7 linked regions of the Homo sapiens genome follow. The protein of the gene in region 7 purifies or fractionates together with the protein of the main gene of each other region. This does not show direct contact. Each region holds a gene or a part of one and is shown on either strand. Other genes may lie near its edges. The genes, in order: TXNDC5, ELAVL2, NKAP, PTPRK, TNRC6C, SIRT4 and ECH1.

Region 1 (3,500 bases), on a different chromosome or scaffold from region 7:
ATGTCAGCAAACGGGGGTAAAAATACTATTTCAACACCTAAGACCCGTCAGAGAGCAGCTAAGGTGCGGAACTGAAGTACAAGAGGCCTCAGCCCAAGGTCGGGAGAGGACAAGCATTTTTAAGGGTCCAGTGTAACCCAGCCACATGTGCCAGGGATGAAGGGCTTCAGCGTGGTCACCTGGGCTTGTGTCTGCTCACGCCTAGGTCTGCTAGGATCCTCTATGGATATAAACCTAAAAGAATCTCCCATAAAATTTCATACAATAATTAAGTAAGGATACAAGGAATGGGGTAAGACAGTAGACAAGATTATTTTATAATTACTTCCCCGAAATGTTCAATAAATATAAACTGATAATAACATGTATAATTAGTATATATTATCGTAAGCGTTTAAGAGGCAACAGTGAAATATCCATTTAACTGACAACAAAAGTGATTACAATTTACCAAGCATCTGCCCCATGCTAAGCATCACACTAAGCAGTGTACTTTCATCTGCCCAGACACCACACAGTAGATCTTAGCTCAGTTTTGCAAAGGGGGAGACCGAGGCGTGGAGAGGTTTTTCCCAAGGTCAGCCAGCCAGGTCTACCCAACCCCCAAGTTTATGCTTTTGACCATCTCACCATCCCAAGTAGATCATCCTGTTAACCATCATTCAGTCCTAGACACGCAGCATTACTTTTGGATACAAATCAGCCCCATGGCAAGGTAGAAAAATGAGATTTTTAAGAAAGGAAATCTATGCATGGTGTCTGGTGGGTGCTGGAAAGTGTAGAAGAATAAAAGTGATGTCCCTGGAGCTACACTGGATATTTCCAGAAAATCCAGTTACACAGAAGTTGTCAGACACCACTCTTGGCTTCTCTGTATAAAGTAGGAAATGCTGGAAAGAATCCCAGGCACAGTGCAAACTGAGGGAGGGTCTTCTGCGTGCTTGGGGGAGCACAGAGCCAGGGTCCTTTTAGAGAGAGCTCTTGGGTGAGGTCGAACGTGGACGGTCTCCAAGTTCGTCCAGTGAACATTCTACAAGGCTCTACCCCATCTCTTTGCAGAACGGGCTCTGGGGCTGCCAATTCAGATTTGGCCATCTCTTCAAAATAAACAAAGCAGCCGAGGCCATAATTTATCTCTAGGCTGTGGAAAAGCCAGCAAAACTCAAAATCAGACTGCCATCTGTGAAGGTGAAATGAATTATCAAGTGGCACACTAAATGGAATTAATAAATCAAGTTTGCGACTTTGCACACGGAATGAATAATGGGCCACTCTGCTAATTAATCCAGCCCAAAGCAGTCCATTTCCAGTTTAATAAGGGCTTTCACTCACCTTGCCAATCTTGACAGTTTCGGAATGTTCAAGGCCCAGAGCCAGCTGCTCCCAGGTTGGAGCCAGGGCTTTGCAGTGACCACACCACGGAGCGAAGAACTTGATAAAGTGGTCGCCTGGAGTGGAGAGCCAAGGCAGAGACGGGGGAAAGAGGAACTGTAATTTATGTCAGACCTCACTAGAGAGTTAATTGAAGAATCAGATCTTTGTCCTGCTTAGCAAATCTTAGTTCGGCATGAGCACTTTAATTGGTACAAAGGGACTCCATCAAATGTGTTTCTGTTCATGACTTCATAACAATACTCAAAACCAAATTTGTCATCTTTGATGGACAATCAGCAATCAACTCATTATTTGGAAAACTGTAATAAAAGGAAAGAATCAGGCATTTCTCCCACCTCTCCTATATGCACTGTACCGCTGAATAACCAGGTGATAAATGAGGGTGAGTTTCTCTTGGTTAAAAAATGAAGGGACGCTTGAATGAGCCTCGGCACTTGGCAGCCCTAAGGAATGGACGGACCCAGGCTCTGCCTGTCATGGTCGACCACATCCCAAAGAGAGACAACTGGACGTTCTGTGCCCCCACCAGCTATGAGGTCTTCTTGTGCCCCCAAAAAACATCACACTGAAACTGATTTTGTCCCCAGACCCAACTACCAATTTCCAGGAAACAGAGAAATCAGGGAAACATGTAGACCACACTACGGGGACACAATTAGCAAAGTCTGGACCACGGGGAGCTCTACAGGTCAAACCACCTATGTCTTCAGCAAGAAAGATAAAGAGATGTCTGGAGAACATGCAGGTTAAAAGAGCCTTAAAAGATATATAAACACATACACATATAGAACTATAGTGCTCAGGAATGTGCACTTCAGTGCACATAAAGGAGTTGATATGGTTTGGCTGTGTCCCCACCCAAATCTCATCTTGAATTCCCACATGTCGTGGGAGGGACCAGGTAGGAGGTAACTGAGTCACGGGGACAGGTCTTTCCCATGCTGGTCTCGTGATAGTGAATAAGTCTCATGAGATCTGATGGTTTTAAAAACGGGAGTTTCCCTACACAAGCTCTTTTTGCCTGCTGATATCCATATAAGATGTGACTTGCTCCTCCTTGCCTTCCACCATGATTGTGAGGCTTCGCCAGCCACGTGGAACTGTGAGTTCTCCATTAAACCTCTTTCCTTTGTAAATTGCCCAGTCTCGGGTGTGTATTCATCAGCAGTGAAAACGGACTAATACAAGTGGTTTCCACAAATGTCAGGCAAGTGCCTTCTTGGAGAAGGGAGGGCGGGCTGTGCCCTGCATGGGACACGGGAAGCTGGCAGTTTTATTTCTTGAACTGGACAGTAGTTACAGTGTGACCACGCTATAAAAATTCATTAAGCCCTACATTTGTTTTCTCGATCTGTATTATATTTTATCATAAAAAAAAGTTTAAAAAATGAAACATCACCCCCTTGGCTACGGGGAAAAAAACAAACAAACCCTCACAGCATCATTATTTGGACACAGAAGGTGTTTAGCTGTTCTACCCTGACATTGGGCTGATACCAAACTGAAAGCAGGCTGTGGCCGGGGAGAGAACTAACCAGTGGCATGTGGCCTGGCGTCTGAGCAGGACTCTGCCACACTAAGGCTCACAGCTACTGTCTCATCAGCACAGCAACAATGCACTTGAAGAAAATGGTGAAAAACTTCCTTTAAAAGTTAACAACTTCCATTAAAAAATGTGCAAAGCTGAAACCATGTGCAGGTGCACAGTAGATCCTGCACTGTAAGGTGGAGACAGGCTCTCTGGGAACCTAATCAGAGTACTGATGGGAAGCCAGCAAGGGCAGGAAGCCACCATGGTACCTACACGACACAGCTGTGTGGCAGTGACCCACTTAGGGAGGCGCTGGCTAGGCCTGCCGGAGTCGGTCTGTCCTGCCGGAGTCGGTCCGTAACAGGTGATTTGGGAAACACACCCTGCTCAGAGCCCAAGACAATCCCAGCTGAAAATGCATTCCCGTAGCGGAAAGCATGCTAGAGTTCTGCCGTCAGGGCGCTGGTATGGATGAAATAACTTTTAGCAAAAGTGGGAAAAGGCTGAAGGCCTCACGATAAGTTACTGTGGACAGTAAGTGTGGTGGGGGAGGGGCTCTGACTCCCAGCAGGCA
Region 2 (3,500 bases), on a different chromosome or scaffold from region 7:
CTCTCTCAAAAAGGAAAATTACAAAGGAGGAATCACAGAAAATTTAATGTAACATGTTTCTTCATATTCTAATTTTTCCTACCCCATTCTGGCCTTTATCTTCCAGATGTTTTCTTCCTCTTCTTTCTCTCCCCATAGTTTGCAAGCGAACTTCCCGTAAGTATATCCTCCCCACAACCTTAAGTGTTGTTACCTTAGCATCCCTACAAACCTCCTATAAAGAAGGCCCCTACCACAAATGCAGTAACATTCGGGTCCACTCAGCAATACAGTCACCATTTATATATACCCAAAGGTTACTAAGACAAGGTAGATGCAGGACAGCTTTTCCACCCGCTCACCAAAATGGAAACTCCAGGTCAGCTTCCACAAGAAATGGGAAATTCAAGCGACTCTGGCGAAACGATTCTTGAGAAAACTCTTCAAGGGCAACAAAACAATATTTCAAACAAACAGATTTTACTTGAGGGAATGGGGACATTACACAGCAATTGATATTCGAATGGTTTTAAATGGACTGATTCGCCGTAAGTTTTGAGGCTGAGCTAAATTTTTATGAAGAATTATTAGGAATAGGGCCACTAGAAAATTAAGTTTTAAAAGCGCTTTTGTCCTTGCCGAAGGTATTACATTTTGGCACTTCTAAGAACCGTTCTTTGAGGGAGGGAATAAAGGAGAGTGGACAACTCGTAGCAAATCCTTTTCCCATGTTTTCAGAAAATGTAGAGACGATAGGACTTGAAAATCTTTGTCATAAAGATGGTCTTTAAAAATGCACACAATTCTAAATGACCATCTGGGCAGCTACAACTGCATGCTCATAGCTCGCATCTAGAGGCATGGTTTTACGCTCTGGCCCTGAAGGATAACAAGGAGGCTTTTAAGGAAATGCCGTGAGAAAGACTGCTGGCTAAGCATTGTCACGGCCACTGGAGGAGCACCTGCCAGTGAACCGACGCTGGCTCCCCCAGTCTCACCAGTGCACGCACACTAGTCCGTGCACCCCGGCCGCCGCTGGCAGGCCCTACCAGCCAAGCTGGAGGAGCAGCTGCCGCAACCACGGCAAGCGAACTGAAATCCCAGAGCCGGCCTCGCCCGGCAGAGCGCCCGCGCTTCCCGCGCAGCGCACGCCTCGCGCGCAAACCCGAGATGTGACCGCGAGCTGCGACCTCGCGCGGCTGCGACGGGCCTCACCTAACGCGCACGAGGGGATCATCATTGCTCCTGCCCTGGGCGCCCGCGGCCCTACACCACCTCCGCACACAACGCGGCCGGTGTTAAGTCTCCAAACGCCCCGAGAGCTCCAAGGACCGCGCGCGCGAAGGCGCCGTAGCAAGTGGGCACACACCAGACACCACCCCGGCGTGTTCCGCGGGAGAAGCCAGTGCACACATCCTCCCGCAAGGCGGGGTTGCCAGTGCAACACAGGAATCCTGCCCTTTTTCTAGAAAAGCCCCCTCCCCCACTTTCCCTCCAATACACTCACCTGCGTCTCAACAGTTTCCTTCTTGCGCTACACGCGGCCGCACCCGGGCACGTCCACGCCCGTGCACGCTGCCAGGCGCGACTGTCCCCGCTCGGCTCCCGCCGCCCCCAACCTGCTTGTGCCCACGGGAGGGGCGGTGCCACCTCCCGAGGCGCCCAATTCTCTCTACTCCCGCCGCAACGGGCTGAGCTCTAGGAACTTCGCGGGCACAACCTCCGCCGCCCCCACCAGTGTTCCCGCCCAGAGTTCGGACTAGGGCGCACCACCCCTACCCTGCTAGACGCAGCGGGGGCGCGCACAGACCTTAGCCTCGGCGTCCAAAATGGACCAGGGGCAAGGCGCGGACGCCGTCCCCGCCCCCACGCCCCCAGCACTTGCCTGCTGTGACTCGAAGCTGCAGCTACTACGGCTCGTGCCGCTGGCCGTCAGCACTGCCGCGGAGGAGTCGCTCGGGGCGAGCTCCGCGGAGAGGCGGTGGCGGCGGCGGCGGCGGGAAAGGGGACTGGAAGCCGGCGGAACCCCCGCCCCACCCGCGCCGCGCCGCGCCGCGCCGGCAACCGCCCTCCTCACCCGGCCGGCTACTGCCTCAGTGACGCCCAGGCGCCGCGGTCCCGCCGTTTGTAGCGGGGCGGGAAGGAGGGGCTTGCTTGGAAGAGCGCCAGGAGGCGGGGCCGGCGGCGAGTTCGCGGCGCCGCGGCCGCCGCCGGCGCGTGCCCTGCCCGACCGCCCTTCGGGTCCGTGCCGGCAGGGAGATGCCGGGCTTCAGCAGCTCAGCTCCGTCCCTCCGGACTTCCGAGTCTCACCAGGCTTCCCCGACAAGGTTTCTCTGGACTCGGTGGAGAGCGTTGAGCGCCCAGAGGAGGCTGATTCCAGGTGCAAGTTTGCAAATCCCGAGGCCCGGGGCGCTAACGGGGAGTCAGAGCAGCTAACGTGGGGGTTACTTTATGTGTTCATAAATGTATTTATAAATATATATAAGTATACACACATATGTGTGTCTCTTTTAAAAATTCTCTTTTTCCCCCTACTTCGCAGCCAAGGGGTCCTGTCCCTGGACAGAAAATAAAGGCTTAGCCCCCTGCTGCCCCTCCCTGCCTCTCTAGAGAGAACCTGACGTTTAAATAAGCCCAGAGTACCTGTGCGGGGTGCTGTACTCTGCTTCAAACGCAAAGTAGGAAATCCTGCACTCGACTATGCAAACGCTTGCCGCTAGCCGCATCCTTCTATCGCCCCCCAACTCAAGACCCGAAATGGCCAACTCTTCACCGAGGGGGCGTCCCATCGCTGCCTTGCCTTGGCCCGCCCCTTCGCCAAGCTCAATCCCTTTTCCCCAGAAAAACCTGTGCCTGTCCTCAGACCCGGCCCCACGGCTGGAAGTCAAAACCCACCCCGGAGCCACGCGGCTGGAGCACGTTTTTACACCTGCTCGGCCGCTTAATTACGAGAGCACCTGTAGTTGGGATTTTTTTCATTGCAAAGGCATCGATTTTAGCCCTTCTCCTAAAATACTACATTTAAAAAATCACCTGTCATACCTACCTGAAATTGTAGGAGGTAAGAGAAAGGAACCGAGCAGTGGGCGACCCAGTCGCCGCAAGAACGTGACCGAGGTTACAGCTTCAAGGGCATGATGCAGGTTTGATGCAGCAAGGTCCGCTAAGGGCGTCCAGCGCTCCCCGCCCCCATGCGACGGGCGGAGCGGGGTTGGGGGGAAGGGAGGGGACTCGTCTAACCCAGGGCGGGTGTGGGAGAGGCAAATTTGCCCTCTTGGGCGAAGTCTAATCAGCATAGTGAAGTAGGGGGCTCAACCAAGGTCAAAAGCGAGATAGGCCATCCCTTAATTTGTGCGACCCAGTCTGGGGACACCGGATACAGCTAACTGATTCTATATCAGCATTTCCGTGTCACCCCAAATCCGATTTGCAATTAAATGACCTTAATTGACTTTGTGTGGGTTCCTGGGAAAACTGCTCAAAGCGCCTGCGCCTCTTTGACCTCTCAGTAAATAGTTAAT
Region 3 (3,500 bases), on a different chromosome or scaffold from region 7:
CCACATTTTCTCTCAAACAAGAGTAGGAATAACAGTGCTCAGCAGTAGTGTGCTAGGAAGCTCAATGTGAATTGCTTTATCCTAATTAGTGTATTAAACATTGCATTGCACTATGACCTATACAACTAACCCAGAAATGCAGAAATATTTTGAAAGAAAAGAACTGCTGTGAGTATAGATTCACAGTTTACAATTATGGATTAATTTATCCCTACAGGTATTGTCATTACTGGTTCTGGCTCCAGCTGATTCCCTTTCCCTTTTTCCCTTAAAAAATCCAAAGTATGCCAGGCACAGTGGCTCACGCCTACAATCTGAACACTTTGGGAGGCTGAGGCGGGAGGATCACCTGAGATCAGGAGCTTGAGAGCAGCCTGGCCAACATAGCGAAACCCCGTCTCTACTAAAAATACAAAATTAGCCGGGCATGGTGGTGCATGCTTGTAGTCCCAGCTACTCAGGAGGCTGAGGCAGGAGAATCACTTGAACCTGGGAGGCAGAGGTTGCAGTGAGCCGAGATCGTGTCACTGCACTCCAGCCTGGGCGACAGAGTAAGGCTTTGTCTCAAAAAACAAAACAAAACAAAACAAAAAAAAAAAACAAAGTAGGCTGGGTGCAGTGGCTGACGCCTGTAATCTCAGCATTTTTGGAGGTTGAGGCGGGCAGATCACTTGAGATCAGGAGTTCGAGACCATACTGGCCAACATGGCGAAACCCCAGCTCTACTAAAAATACAAAAATTAGTCCGGGCGTGGCGGCAGGCGCCTGTAATCCTGGCTACTTGGGAGGCTGAGGCAGGAGAATCACTTGAATCTGGGAGGTGGAGGTTGCAGTGAGCCAAGATCATGCCACTGCACTCCAGCCTGGGCAACAGAGTGAAACTCAATCACACCACTGTGCTTCAGCCTGGGAGACAGAGTGAGACTCCATCTCAAAAAAACAAAACAAAACAAACAAAAAAAAAATTCTAGACCAGGTGCGGTGGCTCACGCCTGTAATCCCAGCACTTTGGGAGGCTGAGGCAGGTGGATCATGAGGTCAGGAATTTGAGACCAGCCTGACCAACATGGTAAAACCGTATCTCTACTGAAAATACAAAAAAAAATTAGCTGAGTGTGGTGGCGCGTGCCTGTAATCCCAGTTACTCAGGAGGCTGAGGCAGGAGAATCGCTTGAACCTGGGAGGCAGAGGTTGCAGTGAGCCAAGATCACGCCACTAAACTCCAGCCTGGGCAACAGAGCGAGACTCCGTCTCACAAAAAGAAAAAAAAATTCTGCTGGTAAAAAAAGAAAAAAGAGAAAAAAAGGAATAAAAAATTCTGTGAGGATCAAAGAGAAACAGAAATCACACCTACTTGTGGAGGGGAAGTATTGGGAATCAGCATATGCATCTCCTTTTGAAAAGGGCTTCGAAGGATAGTAAGGATTTTAACAGGAAGAAACTGGCGATAGGGAAGAAAACAGAGGGCAGGGAAAAGAAGGGAAGGCATACTGGATGAAGAAATAAGCTGAACATGGCATAAAAGTTGCAAAGTGCACATTAAGCCCAGGGAATATTTAGTAGTCCAGCTCAGCTGGAACCTGGAGTAGAAATAAGGGAATAGAGTCAGATAAGCTTGGCAAGGTAAGTTAGAACCAGACTTTTTGGTAGGTACTTTAGATATTATAAACACACTGCTGCTTACTTCAAAGGTTTATCATCTTGAGAGGTAAGTGTTTTTGGAGCCTCTGGGCCAATTAAATCTGATGGTTCTTCAGCCTCTGCATGAAAGATATTAAGAAACACATTCACATTCTGACTAATTGGTTACTTTAATGTTTCATCTGTTCTGAGTTAGTCTATCAGAAGAACCTACTTGTTCGATCCTTCCAGGGATTTTCCAGAAACTCTTCTTGGGATTCTTTAGAGCTTGAATCACTGGACTCTTTTCTGCTCTTCTTAGACCTCTTTTTCTTATATTTCTTCCTATAGGGATTTTAATTTGATACAAATTCACTTAATCTTCCTATGTTAGAGGGCATCTTAATTTTTCTTTTCTTTTTAAATTTTGAACTGGTGACTATACATCTTAATTTTTCAAGGCAAAGAAAGGTGACAATAAAATGATCTGAATTCCCAGCTTATTCAAACTTACAAGATAATTTTACTTAAAAAAATCTGCTTCTAACTGAACCTGGGAAACAGAGCAAGACCCCGTCTCTATTAAAAAAAAAAAAAAGTAGCTGGGTGTGATGGCACACATCTGTAGTCTAAGCTATTCAGGAGGCTGAGGCGGGAGGATCACTTGAGCCCAGGAGTTCGAGGCTGCAATGAGCTATGATTAGCCCACTGCACTCCAGTCTGGGCAACAGAGCGAGACACTGCCTCTTAAGAATTTTTTTAAAAAGTATTCTAACTTATTTAACCAAATCATCTTTTGCTATAAAAATTATCACTAAAGGAGGCTGGGTGTAGTGTTTCACCCCTGTAATCCCAGCACATTGGAAGACTGAGGCGGGTGGGTCACTTGAGCCCAGGGGTTAGAAACTAGCCCTGGGCAACATGACGAAACCGTGTCTCTACAAAAAATACAAAAATTAGCCAGGTGTGGTGGCACACGCCTGTAGTCCCAGGTATGGGGAAAGTGGGGGCAGAGGTGGGAGGATGGCTTGATCCTGGAAGGTTGAGGTTGTAGTGAGCTGTGATCGTGCCACTGCATTCCAGCCTGGGTGACAGGGTGAGACACGGTCTCAAAAAAAAAAAAATTCACTAAAGGGAACAATGAAATACAGTTCTGATGTTGTAGAAAGACAACAGAAATAAAACAGCCTAAAAAGTCCCAACAATTTGAACATTATGAATAATTTTATGTGTAATGGATTAAAATATGTCAAATATGTTTAAATCCTTGGGTTAATAATACTTTTTAAAAATCCAATTCATTATTTGAAAAGTCATTAAAACAAAAAAAATCAAGCAATTATCCTGCTCTTACAATATAAACTATATTTCAGGGTATCTAAATAGTTGATGAGGGTAAGTTTCTCTTATAGAATCATTCTGCCTAATAAATGAAGGATAAAGCCAGGATTAGACTATCACCATTTTACAACCCCTAATGAAATAATGGATCGAGATAATGACCATCAATGGCTGTTAATATGACAAAAAGTGACAACCAGACATTATTTGCCTCCTGACAGTAAACAGCACCACTTATGAAGTATTCTTGCCCCAACTCAAATCTGAGCCTTCTCAGGCCTCTAGACCTATTAATCTATTGGAAATACAGAGGACAGAACATGCCAAAGAATACCATAAGAATACGGTCACTGCAATTTAGGGACATTATTTGGATCCTGATTGGAATAAACTACAGAAAAAACTGCTGAGAATAGAGGAATTATTATTAAATGTTTTAGGCACAATAATAGCATTCTGGTTATGGGTTTTTGTTTTTTTTTTAAATATAGAGACAGGATCTCGCTATGTTGCCCAGGCTGGTATTGAACTCCTGGGCT
Region 4 (3,500 bases), on a different chromosome or scaffold from region 7:
AGTGCTAGGATTATAGGTGTGAGCTGCCACTGAACCCAGACTCAGTTATAATTAATGTGCTTGATCTCATCACATTGTGAGTGACCCAGGTCAAAATCTGTATGACTGCATGAAAAAAAGGCTATAAATACACACTAAATACACACAAATCACCACTCATTTTGACTTGTTATTATTTCTTTTTTTTTTCTGAGACGGAGTCTCGCTCTGTTGCCCATGCTGGAGTGCAGTGGTGCAATCTCGGCTCACTGCAAGCTCCGCCTGCCAGGTTCACGCCATTCTCCTGCCTCAGCCTCCCGAGTAGCTGGGACTACAGGCACCCGCCACCATGCCTGGCTAATTTTTTTTGTCTTTTTAGTAGAGACGGGGTTTCACCGTGTTAGCCAGGATGGTCTCGATCTCCTGACCTCGTGATCCACCCGCCTCGGCCTCCCAAAGTGCTGGGATTGCAGGCATGAGCCACTGCGCCTGGCCTAATTTTTGACTTTTATGATACCTTTCCCCTTTGCTCTTCCCTAAGTCTGAACTTATTTGTCATTTTGGATATAGTAGATATAAATTCATCAATAGAAAAGTGACTATATAATATGTATAATGAAAGAGATACGTATTGTATTTAAAACAGGATCAAAGGTTATAAATTTGACTTGAAAGACCTTCCTTGAAAGGATTCCTAGCGCCCAGAACAAATTGTAGTAAGTCACAAAAGAGGTTTTAGAAATAGTTAATACCTGAAATTCATCCTTGAGATGTGAAGAGTTAGTCTGGGAGTCTATTCTAATCATATCAAAATATGCAGCTTTAAATTCACAGACAGGTATGGCAGTTTCTCCACATAAGCAGGCTTCTAAAATGGCATCATGAATAAAAATGTACTGTTCCTACCAAAAGAATGAAAAAGAAAATTTTGTACTAGTTTTAGTATCACTTTTCTGTCATCAAAGTTAGGAAATACAGAAAATTTTCTCTATATGGAAATATGAATTAAAACACCAATATTTTTCTATATGACTCAGCTAATATTGATTACACATGAAAAACATCTCTTTCGGTTGAGTAGAGTATATATGAGAGACATCTACTCTTTGTTTGCAAAAAAAATAAAAAATAAAAAAAAGTCCACTACAGGTAAATCTACATACCTCTGTCTGGACCATATTAATACGCCGAGATCTTAAGGCTTTGACACAATTGTAAATATCAACAACACCCTCTCTTTCAGCCATGTCTAGCATGATGTCAATCACAATGTAGCAGCCAGTTCGTCCAGCACCAGCACTGAAAAACAATTAAATTTAATGAATTGTAAGAAGCATGTTAGTCTTCATAACCTTAAATAAGGACTTTTTCCACTGTCAGATAGGTAGAATCAAATTGATTTAACAAACTGCAAGGCACAGCACTTGTCCCTGCTGTGTAAAAGCTTATTAATGTACAAATAGCTTCATGCAGAGTATCTGCTTTGGTATAAACTAAAGATTGGAACAAGAGTTCTAAATTATTTTCAAATTGAAAATAACACTGTTTAAGTTCCACACCTCTCTCACAATTTTCATTTTATGTAAATTTAATACACATAATTTCAAGTTCATAGAATTGATCAAGTGGCAGATTCACGCTTCAAAATTTAACTCAAGATTGAATATTTTTAGATTCATCTAGTTGTGTGTCCTCTGGCAACAATGTGAGAATGTTGGCTCACTCACTGTCTTCACCTCTTGTAAATACCAAGGCAAAAGAAAATTAATTCCCAAAACTTTAAACGGGAAATCTGAGGAGCCACGCTTCACAGGAAATGCAAATGGTGGGGGTGGGCAAGAGAATGACGGTTATCAAAGGGGAGGAGAGTAACAGTGTAAAGACTATTTGAATCATGATCTGAAGAGAAATGAAAATGAATTATTAGGTGTAGAATATGATTCCCAGCAAATCAAAAGGCTAGCCGCTATCTTACTGTATTTAATTCTAAAGTTAATTTTTAAAAATACTTTTAAAAAATTATATTTTAGTCTTTAATTGGCAAATAATAATGTATATATTCTTGGGTACATAGTGATATTTTAATACACATAATGTAGAGTGATCAGAAAAGGGTGATTGGCATATGCGTCCTCTCAAACATGTATCATTTATGTTGTGAACATTCAGTATCTTCCTTCTAGCTCTCTCAAACTAAACATTATCATTTACCAGACTCATCCTACAGTGGTACAGAACACTAAAATGTATTCCTCTATCTCACCATATTTTGTGTCCTTTAATTGTAATATACTGTGATTATTTTGCAGCTGGGGAATGTTTCTCCAATTTTATATATAGAAGTCAATGGGGAAAACAAAATAAGGATTTTTTGCGGGGAGTGGGGAATTCACTTTGTAGTCCAGAGATGCTTCAGTGTAGGTGGAAAATGACACTTCTGTTTCAAGAGAGTATCTGAGAATCTTGGAGCATTTCTGAAGCAAGCAATTCATAAGAAAGTAAACCTCTCTGATAAATCAAGAAATTCTTAAGTTGAAAACCTATTTATCTCATTTTCTAAGTGCTTAGATAGGCTAGTAACATTATTTCCTTGTTATTCAGATTTGGTCACTTCTCTTAAACTCACTGTTCTTTTAGAAATTTAAGCAAAAGATATTGTGGCTATCTCTATTTATCTTTGTCCCCTACCATCTTCTCAATCACTGTTCCCAGAGTTGGAGACAGGAATGTAATTTAAGAGTACATCAGATTTCATGAGGAGGATTGAAAGGAAGTTTTTTTTGTTTTCAGGGTACATAGTATCTGATCCTATGGGACGTTTTACCTTTACTTCATTCTCTGCTTTTTTTCCCCTCTTTTATACATGGTTATTTAAATCCTGAATAGGTTGGATTTTCAGAAAGCAAAAAATGCTTAGGTACAACCTATTATGTAGCTTGGAGGGAAGAGCGTATGAGAATGGTGTGCAGCATCATTTAGGAAACGCTTTTCAGATTCAGTACTTATTTTTCTGGTCACACCTCAAAATGAGGCCATGTAATTTGCTTTTAGTATCTCTAAATGCTTGTTTTAAGAGAAGTTTCTAATCAGAAGAAAGTCTGGATATAATGCTCGTGTTTTTTGGCATATATTTGCTGAATCTCACTGATGCAGTTTTCAAGGTCCTCTAATGTGAATTCTTTAAAAAAAATTTTTAAATAGCTGTTTTGCAGCACAAATCCTTGCAATTTAGGCCATTTAGTAACTCTGTATGTCTGAAATTTAGTTTTAAAGCTGGAATTCTATTGGGAATTTTCTAGATTGGCAAGAAATGTCTATTTCAACCTAGCATTCTATACAATATGGGATTTGCAAAAGTGATAAAAACAAAAAACACAGATGTTGCCATTAAAAGGCAGAGTTTCTATACTTTAAATTGTGGATAACACTACACGCATTAGGATGAATGTATGTATTTCTTAAGTTCCTGTTTTATAGACTACTTACAGCCAACTTTTATTTTATTGCTGTTTTACTTTATC
Region 5 (3,500 bases), on a different chromosome or scaffold from region 7:
TTTGGGAGGCCAAAGCAGGCGGATCACTTGAGGTCAGGAGTTCGAGATCAGCCTGGCAAACATGGTGAAACCCCATCTCTACTAAAAATAGAAAAAATTAGCTGGGTGTGGTGGTGCACGCCTGTAGTCCCAGCTAATCGGGAGGCTGAGGCATGAGAATCACTTGAGCCTGCGAGGCGGAGGTTGCAGTGAGCCAAGATCACGCCACTATACTCCAGCCTGGGCAAGAGAGCGAGAATCTGTCTCAAAAAAAAAAAAAAAAGAAACAAAAGAAGCAAACACAAAACACATGGCTCCAATGAGTCATATTTCAAGTGGGAAATTCAATGTTTTGGGAACTATCTAGGTGGCCTTATTAGTGATAGTACCTATGGCAATCTAGCTCTTCCTTCCACAAAATAGCATGCTGTGATAAAACTTTATCAGAGATGGCACTTCTATGATAAGACATTACTTATCAATAAATCCAGCAGCATGGGCGACACCTGAGGTCAGGAGTTCGAGACCAGCCTGGCCAACATGGCAAAACCCTGTCTCTACTAAAAATACAAAAATTAGCTTGGTATGGTGGCACACATGCCTGTAATTCCAGCTACTTGGGAGGCTGAGGCAGGAGAGTCGCTTGAACCCAGAAGGTGGAGATTGCAGAGAGCTGAGATCATGCCACTGCACTCCATCCTGGGCGACAGAGTGAGACTTCATCGCAAAAAAAAAAAAAAAGTAATAATAATAAAAAATCCAGCAGAAACTCAAATTGATTTCCATTTCTCCATAAGCACTACCTGCTGTCTTTTCATGCTGCTTCAGGTGACTAGAAAAGGTGCCCGCCAACTGTGCCTTGTATCATCCCTGCCTCACAGCCCAACCTGTCACCCCTGACATCTCCAAATGGGTCTAGAGAGACCGTCCATGCAGAGGCAGGAAGAGCAGCACCCTCACCTCCACTCTTGAGGAGGTAGCGGTTGACATCCTGGATGGTGGTGTTGATGGTAGGCCCAGTGGGGACACTGCCAGGAGTGACGTCAGGGTCATTCTCAGGGTCAATATTCTGCAGTCCTTTCCATGGAACTCCCGGATGGAATTCTGTTTAAGAAACCAAAATGAGAAGCCACAGATCAGAACACCGGCACATTGATTCACGAAATTTTAAAAGATGTTTTGTCCTGTTTGTAGAAATTTTTATAATCTGCTAATTAAATTAGAGGTACACCTTATACTCTCTTTCATTAAAGCAATCAATCCTTTGGAACAAACTAGAACCAGGTATCACAGCTATCATATTAAGCTAGTTTTCACACAGGGTTGGAATAGTTTTACCGGATAGTGTGCAGTGTGCTTCCTCCCTGCCACCCCTTCCACTCCTCATGCTGAACTAAGGGTTTACAGAAAAATGCCTGATGCTAACCATACCCAAAATTGATCTGACAAATGGATTTCCAAGGAAAATGCCAAAGCTCTGGGCTTAACGCTTCCAGATCCTTAGCTCAGATTCTGGGTCCTCTCAGCCTAATCACTCTCTGCAGGCTTGGAGCACATTCTGACCTGCTGCTGTTGCACAGAAGTGTTGCATGGTCTTACCTGGGGGCCAGTTGATGCTAGAGCCATTTGAGATTTTATCACTGTCAGATTTGGCACGTGACCAGCTATGGGGAACAGCTACGGGAGGACTGGCTGGTGACTCACTGTTCTGGATTAAATCGTACCGGCCATAGGAGTCATCAATGGAGGACTTACCTGGAGGCCCAATGCTTAGACCTCCAGGGATAGCACCTATGGGGACAATAGGAAACAAAGAAGCGAGTGAATACTCTCCAGTTGAGAGACACCAGAAGATACCCTAAGCCTCCCTATGTACCTTCTGTTCTAGGTCCAATGCCTTGCCCTATTCAGTTACATGAATTGTAAGACTTGGTCTGTCTAGGATTCTGTAAGAATCAATGACTTTATTTATTTATTTATTTATTTTTTTGAGACAACTTCTCACTCTGTGGCCCAGGCTGGAGTGTAGTGATGTGATCAGGGCTCAACCTCCTGGGCTCAAGCGATCCTCCCACCTTGGCCTCCCAAGTAGCTGGAACTACAGGTGTGAGCCACCATGCCTGGCCAGTGACTGTTTCAGTTAGCTACAATTTCAGCCCTGAAAGATTGAAACCCTTGAAGAACAATTTCAGTTTGTCCAGTAAGAAGTCTTTACAAAATACATATCCATACCATGGGAAGCTGCCCTTAATAAATCTTTTTGGGGACAACTTATGAGTCTTTGTGATTAGCTATCAAATTTGCTGTTATCTCTTCCCTCCTTTTAGTCTGAAACCCTCACTACGGAAGAACACAGTGGATGTTAAAAATTCATACAGAACCAAACCAACCAGCTACAGGCAGCAGAGCCCTCCTGCTAAGAAAGGTGCCAGCAGTGTGTGATGATTTTCCGTAAGTTAACCATGAGACATAGTTTCCTTTTTCTTTTTAGAATGCTTCCTATCAAGAGAGAACTACGTAACCTACTGAATTTCCTTTGCTGTTTATTCTACCAGGAAGTTCAGAGTTAAATTTAATGCTTGAGAGTGAGATTACCTCCTATGGTTATCATTTTTGCTTCCACCTTACTCGTGTGTCCATCAGTAAAGAGTTCCCGATGGGGACACCAGTTTGGAGTAAGACAGACTGCTTGGATGGAGGGGAATAACCAACAGAAATGCACCCTAGTATTTACAGCTGCAGTTCCCATACATACTGTATATTTGATTTTCTATTTATGTTTTACCATTTTATTGAAAACATTTCAGCAGACTCAAGTTTTTGTTGATGAATATAGATACATAAAAAAAGTACACAGGCTATGACCTAGATTCTTTGCTGCTCTGGGGTTTTCAAATTATTTCTAAGTTTGTAGCTAAGATCTAATGGTTGGGTTTTAAGAAGTTTGATCAGTGACTAGCTGAGATCTTATATGCACTATAATGGAATGGGTTATTTTAAATCCAACTTTCAGTGCTCAATTCTTAGAAAAGTATAGAATGGCCATGCTATACAACAGGACGATCGATTAATAAGCCAGCAGTGATCCCACCACAGGCATCCTAGCTCAGACGTACCATGCTTGCTAGGGTTCTGCTCCAGGGGGGAAGCGGCACTGGGCAAGTTATCCATGGAGTTGGGGTGCGTCCACTGGGGGAGGCGTGACTGGGACTGGGATGGGTCCTTCACCGACAAGCCACCGGTCATGTCCATGCTGTTGACATTCATGTTTGGGTTCAGTCCAGCTAAAGAGAGAGATGCGGTTAGGATTCGCCTGCTCCTCTAAATGACTTCATTCTAAAGCTCTCCTATAGAAGCTATTTCAGTCTTCGCTTACAGCAAATTTTTTTTTTTTTTTGAGACGGAGTCTTGCTCTTGATGCCCAGGCTGGAGTGCAATGGCACAATCTTGGCTCATTGCAACCTCCGCCTCCCAGGTTCAAGCGATTCTCCTGCCTCAGCCTCCCAAGTAGCTGGGATACA
Region 6 (3,500 bases), on a different chromosome or scaffold from region 7:
TAGCCATACTTTCTATTTTATTTTTTTTATTTTTGGAGACAGGGTCTGGCTGTTGCCCAGGCTGGAATGCAGTGGCACGATCTCAGCTCACTGCAGCCTCAACCTCCTGGGCTCAGGTTATCCTCCCACCTCATCCTCCTGAGTGGCAGGGACTGCACTACAAACACGCGCCATCTCGCCCAGCTAATTTTTGTAGTTTTGGTAGAGACGGTGTTTCACTGTGTCGCCCAGGCTGGTCTCAAACTCCTGGCCTCAAGTGATCCTCCCTCCTTGGCCTCCCAAAGTGCTGGGATTACAGGTGTGAGCCACTGCGCCCAGCCCATCAATTTCCTTCCTATACACTCCTTCCTAACCTTCTGCTATAGCTCACTTTTATCCTTAACATGACTGCAAATGCCTTGCCTGCTGATTTCCTTAATGCCCAAACCTGCGTTTTTCCCTCTATACTTTCCCTTGCTCATCTGCTGAATTTGCCACTGTCTATTACCATTCCTTCTAAAATGCTTCTCCTTCTTGGTTTCCAGGACACAGTGTCTCCTGGTTCTCTTCTCACCTCTTTTTTTTTTTTTTTTTTTTTTTTTTTTTGAGAGCAAGTTTCACTCTCATTGCCCAGGTTGGAGTGCAATGGCATGATCTTGGCTCACCGCAACCTCCACCTCCTGGTCTCAAGCGATTCTCCTGCCTCAGCCTCCTGAGTAGCCGGGATTACAGGCAGGCTCTACCACACCCGACTAATTTTTTTTGTATTTTTAGTAGAGACGGGGTTTCTCCATGTTGGTAAGGCTGGTCTCAAACTCCCGACCTCAGGTGATCCGCCTGCCTTGGCCTCCCAAAGTGCTGGGATTACAGGTGTGAGCCACTGCACCTGGCCCCCCTTCTCACCTCTCCAATCACCAGAGCTTGAGCCAGTGAGGGAGAGCACTTTGTGTCTGTTTTTATTTTTTTATTTTATTTTTTATTTTTTTGAGACGGAGTTTCACTCTTGTTGCCCAGGCTGGAGTGCAATGGCGCGATCTTGGCTCACCGCAACCTCTGCCTCCCAGGTTCAAGCAATTCTCCTGCCTCAGCCTCCCGAGTAGCTGGGATTACAGGCATGCACCACCACGCCCGGCTAATTTTGTATTTTTAGTAGAGACGGGGTTTCTCCATGTTGAGGCTGGTCTCGAACTCTTGACCTCAGGTGGTCTGCCCGCCTTGGCCTCCCAAAATGCTGGGATTACAGGCATGAGCCACTGCGCCCGGCCTATTTTTTTTTTTTTTTTTTTTTTTTTTAAGAGACAGGGTCAGGCTGGGCGTGGTGGCTCACGCCTGTAATCCCAACACTTTGGGAGGCCGAGGCGGGCGGATCACGAGGTCAGGAGATCGAGACCATCCTGGCTAACACGGTGAAACCCCATCTCTACTAAAAATACAAAAAATTAGCCGGCCGTGGTGGCGGGCGCCTGTAGTCCCAGCTACTCGGGAGGCTGAGGCAGGAGAATGGCGTGAACCCGGGAGGCGGAGCTTGCAGTGAGCCGAGATAGCACCACTGCACTCCAGCCTGGGCAACGAGCGAGACTCCGTCTCAAAAAAAAAAAAGAGACAGGGTCTTGGCCAGGCGTGGTGGCTCTTACCTGGAGTGCAGTGGCATGATCATAGCTCACTGCAGCCTCGAACTCCTAGGCTCAAGCAATCCTCCTGCCTTAGTCTTCCAAAGTGCTGGGACTACAGGTGTGAGCCACCACAACCAGCCTCATTTTTCTCCTTTTAGTTCTAGTCAGCCATCAGATTATGTTGATTTTCTTCTCTTAAAAGAACCCCTGTGGCCAGGCATGGTGGCTCACACCTTGTAATCCCAGCACTTTGGGAGCGTAAAGCAAGAGAATCGCTTGAGCTCAGGAGTTCCAGACCAGTCTGGGTAGACAGCAAGACGCTCTCTCTACAAAAAAAATTTTTTTGGCTTGTCTTTGTTTTTTGAGACGGGGTCTTGCTCTGTCGCCCAGGCTGGAGTGCAATGGCGCGATCTCGGCTCACTGCAACCTCCGCCTCCTGGGCTTAAGCGATTCTCCTGCCTCAGCCTCCCGAGCAGCTGGGATTACAGGCGCCTGCCACCACGCCCAGCTAATTTTTGTGATCTGCCCACCTCGGCCTCCCAAAGTGCTGAGACTACAGACGTGAGCCACCACGCCTAGCCAAAAAAAATTTTTTAATTAGCTGGAGTTCTAATTACCCAGGAGTTCTAGGTTACAGGGAGTTATGATGGCACCATTGCACTCTAGCCTGGGTGTCAGAACCAGACCCTGTCTAAAAAAGAAAAAAAGGCCAGGCCGGGCACGGTGACTCACACCTGTAATCCCAGCAATTTGGGAGGCCAAGATGGGTGGATCAGTTGAGGTCAGGAGTTTGAGACCCGCCTGGCCAACATGGTGATACCCTGTCTCTACAAAAATACAAAAAAATTAGCCGGGTGTGGTGGTGCACACCTGTAATTCCAGCTACTCAGGAGGTTGAGACAGGAGAATTGCTTGAACCCAGGATGTAGAGGTTACAGTGAGCCAAGATCATGCCATTGTACTCCAGCCTAGGTGACAGAGCAAGACTTCATCTCAAAAAAAAAAAAAAAAAAAGAAAGCGGGCACAGTGGCTCATGCCTGTAATCCCAGCACTTTGGGAGGCCAAGGCAGGCAGATCACCTGAGGTCAGGAGTTTGAGACCAGCCTGGCCCAACACGGTGAAACCCAGTCTCTACCAAAAATACAAAAATTAGCCGGGCATGGTGGTGCATGCCTGTAATCCCAGCTACTCAGGAGGCTGAGGCAGGAGAATCGGTTGAACCCGGGAGGTGGAGGTTGCAGTGAGCCAAGATCTCACCACTGCTCTCCAGCCTAGGCGACAGAGTGAGACTCTGTCTCAAAAAAAAAAAAAAAAGAAAAGAAAAAAAGGCCCCTGTGAAATGTCAAGAAGTCCTGGATTGTTTTAAAATGCTTAAGAAGAGACAGAATGGATAAAGTAGACATGACAAAATCTTGATAAAACCTTGGAATCTGGGTGATGGTATATGAGAATTCATTATACAATTCTCTTTACTTTTGTGAAGTTTGAAATTTTCATTATTAAAAGAACAGATTTTCTTCATGAAAAAAATTGTGAGTTTTTTTTGAGACAGAGTTTCACTCTTGTCGCCCAGGCTGGAGGGCAATGGCACAACAGTCTTGGCTCACCGCAACCTCCGCCTCCCAGGTTCAAGCGATTCTCCTGCCTCAGCCTCCCGAGTAGCTGGGATTACAGGCATGTGCCACCATGCCCGGCTAATTTTTTGTTGTTCTTGTACTTTTAGTAGTGACAGGGTTTCTCCATGTTGGTCAGGCTGGTCTTGACTCCCGACCTCAGGTTATCCACCCGCTTCGGCATCCCAAAGTGCTGAGATGACAGGCATGAGCCACCACGCCCGGCGGAAAAAATTGTTTTAATGAATCCATAAGCATCATTAACTCAAATTCCCTGGATACCACCTTAGTCTA
Region 7 (3,500 bases):
CTGTGTTCTAGAAGGACTAAGGAGAATTAGAAAAAGCCCATGAATTATTCAATGATGTCCACCATAACTCAGGGAAAGGAAGAAAATCCTTCTGCCTTCCTCGAGCAGCTATAGGAGGCCTTAAGAAAATATACTCCCCGGTCACCCGAATCACTCAAGGGTCAATTGATTCTAAAAGATAAGTTTATTATCCAATCAGCCGCAGATATCAGGAGAAAGCTCCAAAAGCAAGCCCTGGGCCCTGAACAAAATTTGGAGGCATTATCAAAACCTGGCAACCTCAGTGTTCTATAATAGGGACCAAGAGGAACAGGCCCAAAAGGAAAAGTGAGATTGGAGAAAGGCCGCAGCCTTAGTTATGGCCCTCAGACTAACAAACCTTAGTGGTTCAGAGAGGACAGATAGTAGAGGCCAATCACCCGGTAGGGCTTGTTATCATGCGGTTTACTAGGACACTTTAAAAAAGATTGTCCAATGAGAAACAAGCTGCCCCCTCGTCCATGTCCACTATGCCGAGGCAATCACTGGAAGGTGCACTGCCCCAGCGGACGAAGGTTCCCTAGGTCAGAAGCCCCCAACCAGATGATCCAACAACAGGACAGAGGGTGCCCGGGGCAAGCGCCAGCTCATGTCATCACCCTCACTGAGCCCCGGGTACGTTTAACCATTGAGGGCCAGGAAACTGACTTCCTCCTGGACACTGGCGCGGCCTTCTCAGTGTTAATCTCCTGTCCTGGACGACTGTCCTCAAGGTCTGTTACCATCCGATGAATCCTGGGACAGCCTGTAACCAGGTATTTCTCCCACCTCTCAGTTGTAATTGGGAGACTTTGCTCTTTTCACATGCCTTTCTTATTATGCCTGAAAGTTCCACACCCTTATTAGGCAGGGACATATTAGCCAAGGCTGGAGCTATTATCTACATCAATATGGGGAACAAGTTACCCATTTGTTGTCCCCCTACTTGTGGAGGGAATCAACCCTGAAGTCTGGGCATTGGAAGGACAATTTGGAAGGGCAAAAAATGCCCGCCCATTACAAATCAGGTTAAAAGATCCCACTGCTTTTCCTTATCAAAGGCAATATCCCTTAAAGCCTGAAGCTCATAAACGATTACAGAATATTGTTAAACATTTAAAAGCTCCAGGCTTAGTAAGGAAATGCAGCAGTCCCTACAACACCCCAATTCTAGGAGTACAAAAACTAAATGGTCAGTGGAGACTAGTGCAAGATCTTAGACTCATCAATGAGGCAGTAATTTCTCTATATCCAGCTGTAACCAACACCTATACCCTGCTCTCTCAAATAACAGAGGCAGCAGAATGGTTCACAGTTCTAGACCTCAAGGATGCCTTCTTCTGTATTCCCCTACACTCTGACTCCCAGTTTCTCTTTGCCTTTGAGGATCCCACAGACCACACGTCCCAAATTATGTGGACGGTCTTGCCCCAAGGGTTTAGGGATAGGCCTCATCTGTTTGGTCAGGCACTGGCCCAAGATCTAGGCCACTTCTCAAGTCCAGGCACTCTGGTCCTTCAATATATGGATGATTTACTTTTGGCTCCCAGTTCAGAAGCCTCGAGCCAGCAGGCTACTCTAGATCTCTTGAACTTTCTCGCTAATCAAGGGTACAAGGTGTCTAGGTCAAAGGCCCAGCTTTGCCTACAGCAGGTCAAATATCTAGGCCTAATCTTAGCCAGAGGGACCAGGGCCCTCAGCAAGGATGGAGAGGGAGGACAGGGAGGAGAGGGAGAAGGAGGGGAAGGAGGGGAAGGAGGAAGGGAGGAGAGGGAGGGAGGGGAAGGAGGAAGGGAGGAGAGGGAGGGAGGGGAGGGAGAAAGGGGAGGGAAAGAAAGAAAGGGACCTGGGAATATGTTAATGGACAAAACAGAAAGAAATAGTTTACTGTCTGTCTTCCCCACTGAGTTGGGAACGCCATGACAACAGGGCCTGGGACTGTCCTAGTCAAGACTGGGTTCCCAGCACCAGGCTCTGGGCCCTGTGCAGAAATCAGTGTATGAAATATTTTGCTTCTGGTTCAGTCCTAAAGGGCCAACCCTCCCACGGACAACTACATACGCTGGCTGGACAAGAAACAAACAATTATCTGAAGGCACTGGGCAGATTCTGGAGGGAGTGACCACTTAGGAGAGTGGCAGAACACTCTCTCGGTGTTTTTGAAAATGGTTTTGAAAACTTTCAGCCTGAGGGCAGACTGAAATTGTGCTTGAAGAGCCACAGGATAGAGTCCAAGGTGACCAAAGCTGCCGGGAAGTGAGGGGGGATATTCCAAAGAGGGGAGAGCCAGAGCGAGGAGTCCCGAATTCTGTGTATCAACTCTGCCCTAATCTCTTGCTGGGAGATGTATGTTTTTGTTGTTGTTTTTGTTTTGAGATGGGTTCTTGCACTGTCACCCAGGCTGGGTGCAGTGGCACGACCACAGCTCACTGCAGTTTTGACCTCCCTGGTTCGAGCCATCCTCCCACCTCAGCCTCCAGAGTAGCTGGGAGTGTGGTCATTCATCACACCCAGCTAATTTTTGTTAGAGACAAGGTCTCAGTGTGTTGCCCTGGCTGAAGATTAGTTTTTAAATCTTTTGCTGGGGGTGCATGTATGGTCTGTAAATCAGCAAGAAGCCAGGCACAGTGGTTCACGCTTGTAGTCCCAGCACATTGGGAGGCCGAGTCAGGAGGATCGCTTGAGTTCAAGAGTTGAAGACCAGACTGGGCAACATAGCAAGACCTCATCTCTACAAAAAAATAAAAATAAAAACAGAAAAACCAAAAAAACTAATTCCAACTAAGCTACCAAAACACGAAACTCAACACTCTTTGGAACTATATGATAGAATCCAGAGTATCCACATCTTATTCCTATATCCCAATATCCAAGAAACAATCCAAACTAACTCAAAATACAAAGAAACAGGAAAGTGAAGCCGTTTTCTTTTTTTTGAGACAGAGTCTCGCTCTTGTCACCAAGGCTGGAGTGCAATGGCGTGATGTAGGCTCACTGCAACCTCTGCCTCCTGGGTTCAAGCGATTCTCCTGCCTCAGGCTCTCCAGCAGCTGGGATTACAGGCATGCACCACCACGCCGGGAAAATTTTTGTATTTTTAGTACAGACGGGGTTTCACCATGTTGGCCAGGCTAGTCTTGAACTCCTGACCTCAAGTGATCCACCCACCTCAGCTTCCCAAAGTGCTGGGATTACAGGCATGAGCCACTGAGCCCAGCCTGCCATTTCCAAGCGAAAAGATGATAAGGAGACTGACCCCAAGATGACCCAGATGTTGAGATTAGAAGATAAGGAGTTTTTGTTTTGTTTTTATTTTGTTTTTAGAGGGAGTCTCGCTATGTCACCCAGGCTGGAGTGCAGTGGCGCCATCTCGGCTCACTGCAACCTCTGCCTCCCAGGTTCACGCCATTCTCCTGCCTCAGCCTCCCGAGTAGCTGGGACTAAAGGTGCCCGCCACCATGCCTGGCTAATATTCTTTTTTT

What was found.
Region 1: the proteins of ECH1 (region 7) and TXNDC5 purify together in Homo sapiens (co-immunoprecipitation; one large-scale study listed by IntAct). This does not show direct contact.
Region 2: the proteins of ECH1 (region 7) and ELAVL2 purify together in Homo sapiens (co-immunoprecipitation; one large-scale study listed by IntAct). This does not show direct contact.
Region 3: the proteins of ECH1 (region 7) and NKAP purify together in Homo sapiens (co-immunoprecipitation; one large-scale study listed by IntAct). This does not show direct contact.
Region 4: the proteins of ECH1 (region 7) and PTPRK fractionate together in Homo sapiens (co-fractionation; one large-scale study listed by BioGRID). This does not show direct contact.
Region 5: the proteins of ECH1 (region 7) and TNRC6C purify together in Homo sapiens (co-immunoprecipitation; one large-scale study listed by IntAct). This does not show direct contact.
Region 6: the proteins of ECH1 (region 7) and SIRT4 purify together in Homo sapiens (co-immunoprecipitation; one large-scale study listed by IntAct). This does not show direct contact.

What each region holds. Positions count from the first base shown.
Region 1 is NC_000006.12:7,890,289-7,893,788, forward strand, and holds part of TXNDC5 (thioredoxin domain-containing protein 5 isoform 1 precursor), read right to left. Parts: intron 1,449-3,500; coding exon 1,333-1,448; intron 1-1,332. UniProt on the Homo sapiens protein: Protein disulfide isomerase of the endoplasmic reticulum lumen involved in the formation of disulfide bonds in proteins. Can reduce insulin disulfide bonds.
Region 2 is NC_000009.12:23,819,741-23,823,240, forward strand, and holds part of ELAVL2 (ELAV-like protein 2), read right to left. Parts: intron 3,393-3,500; exon of another isoform or gene 3,026-3,392; intron 2,816-3,025; exon of another isoform or gene 2,623-2,815; intron 2,081-2,622; exon of another isoform or gene 1,865-2,080; intron 1,570-1,864; exon of another isoform or gene 1,487-1,569; intron 1,417-1,486; exon of another isoform or gene 1,195-1,416; intron 1-1,194.
Region 3 is NC_000023.11:119,930,252-119,933,751, forward strand, and holds part of NKAP (NF-kappa-B-activating protein), read right to left. Parts: intron 1,966-3,500; coding exon 1,856-1,965; intron 1,761-1,855; coding exon 1,685-1,760; intron 1-1,684. UniProt on the Homo sapiens protein: Acts as a transcriptional repressor. Plays a role as a transcriptional corepressor of the Notch-mediated signaling required for T-cell development. Also involved in the TNF and IL-1 induced NF-kappa-B activation.
Region 4 is NC_000006.12:127,982,100-127,985,599, forward strand, and holds part of PTPRK (receptor-type tyrosine-protein phosphatase kappa isoform b precursor), read right to left. Parts: intron 1,279-3,500; coding exon 1,143-1,278; intron 882-1,142; coding exon 732-881; intron 1-731. UniProt on the Homo sapiens protein: Regulation of processes involving cell contact and adhesion such as growth control, tumor invasion, and metastasis. Negative regulator of EGFR signaling pathway. Forms complexes with beta-catenin and gamma-catenin/plakoglobin.
Region 5 is NC_000017.11:78,091,203-78,094,702, reverse strand, and holds part of TNRC6C (trinucleotide repeat-containing gene 6C protein), read right to left. Parts: intron 3,264-3,500; coding exon 3,096-3,263; intron 1,771-3,095; coding exon 1,579-1,770; intron 1,084-1,578; coding exon 940-1,083; intron 1-939. UniProt on the Homo sapiens protein: Plays a role in RNA-mediated gene silencing by micro-RNAs (miRNAs). Required for miRNA-dependent translational repression of complementary mRNAs by argonaute family proteins.
Region 6 is NC_000012.12:120,308,821-120,312,320, reverse strand, and holds part of SIRT4 (NAD-dependent protein lipoamidase sirtuin-4, mitochondrial), read right to left. Parts: intron 1-3,500. UniProt on the Homo sapiens protein: Acts as a NAD-dependent protein lipoamidase, biotinylase, deacetylase and ADP-ribosyl transferase. Catalyzes more efficiently removal of lipoyl- and biotinyl- than acetyl-lysine modifications.
Region 7 is NC_000019.10:38,825,295-38,828,794, forward strand, and holds part of ECH1 (delta(3,5)-Delta(2,4)-dienoyl-CoA isomerase, mitochondrial precursor), read right to left. Parts: intron 1-3,500. UniProt on the Homo sapiens protein: Isomerization of 3-trans,5-cis-dienoyl-CoA to 2-trans,4-trans-dienoyl-CoA.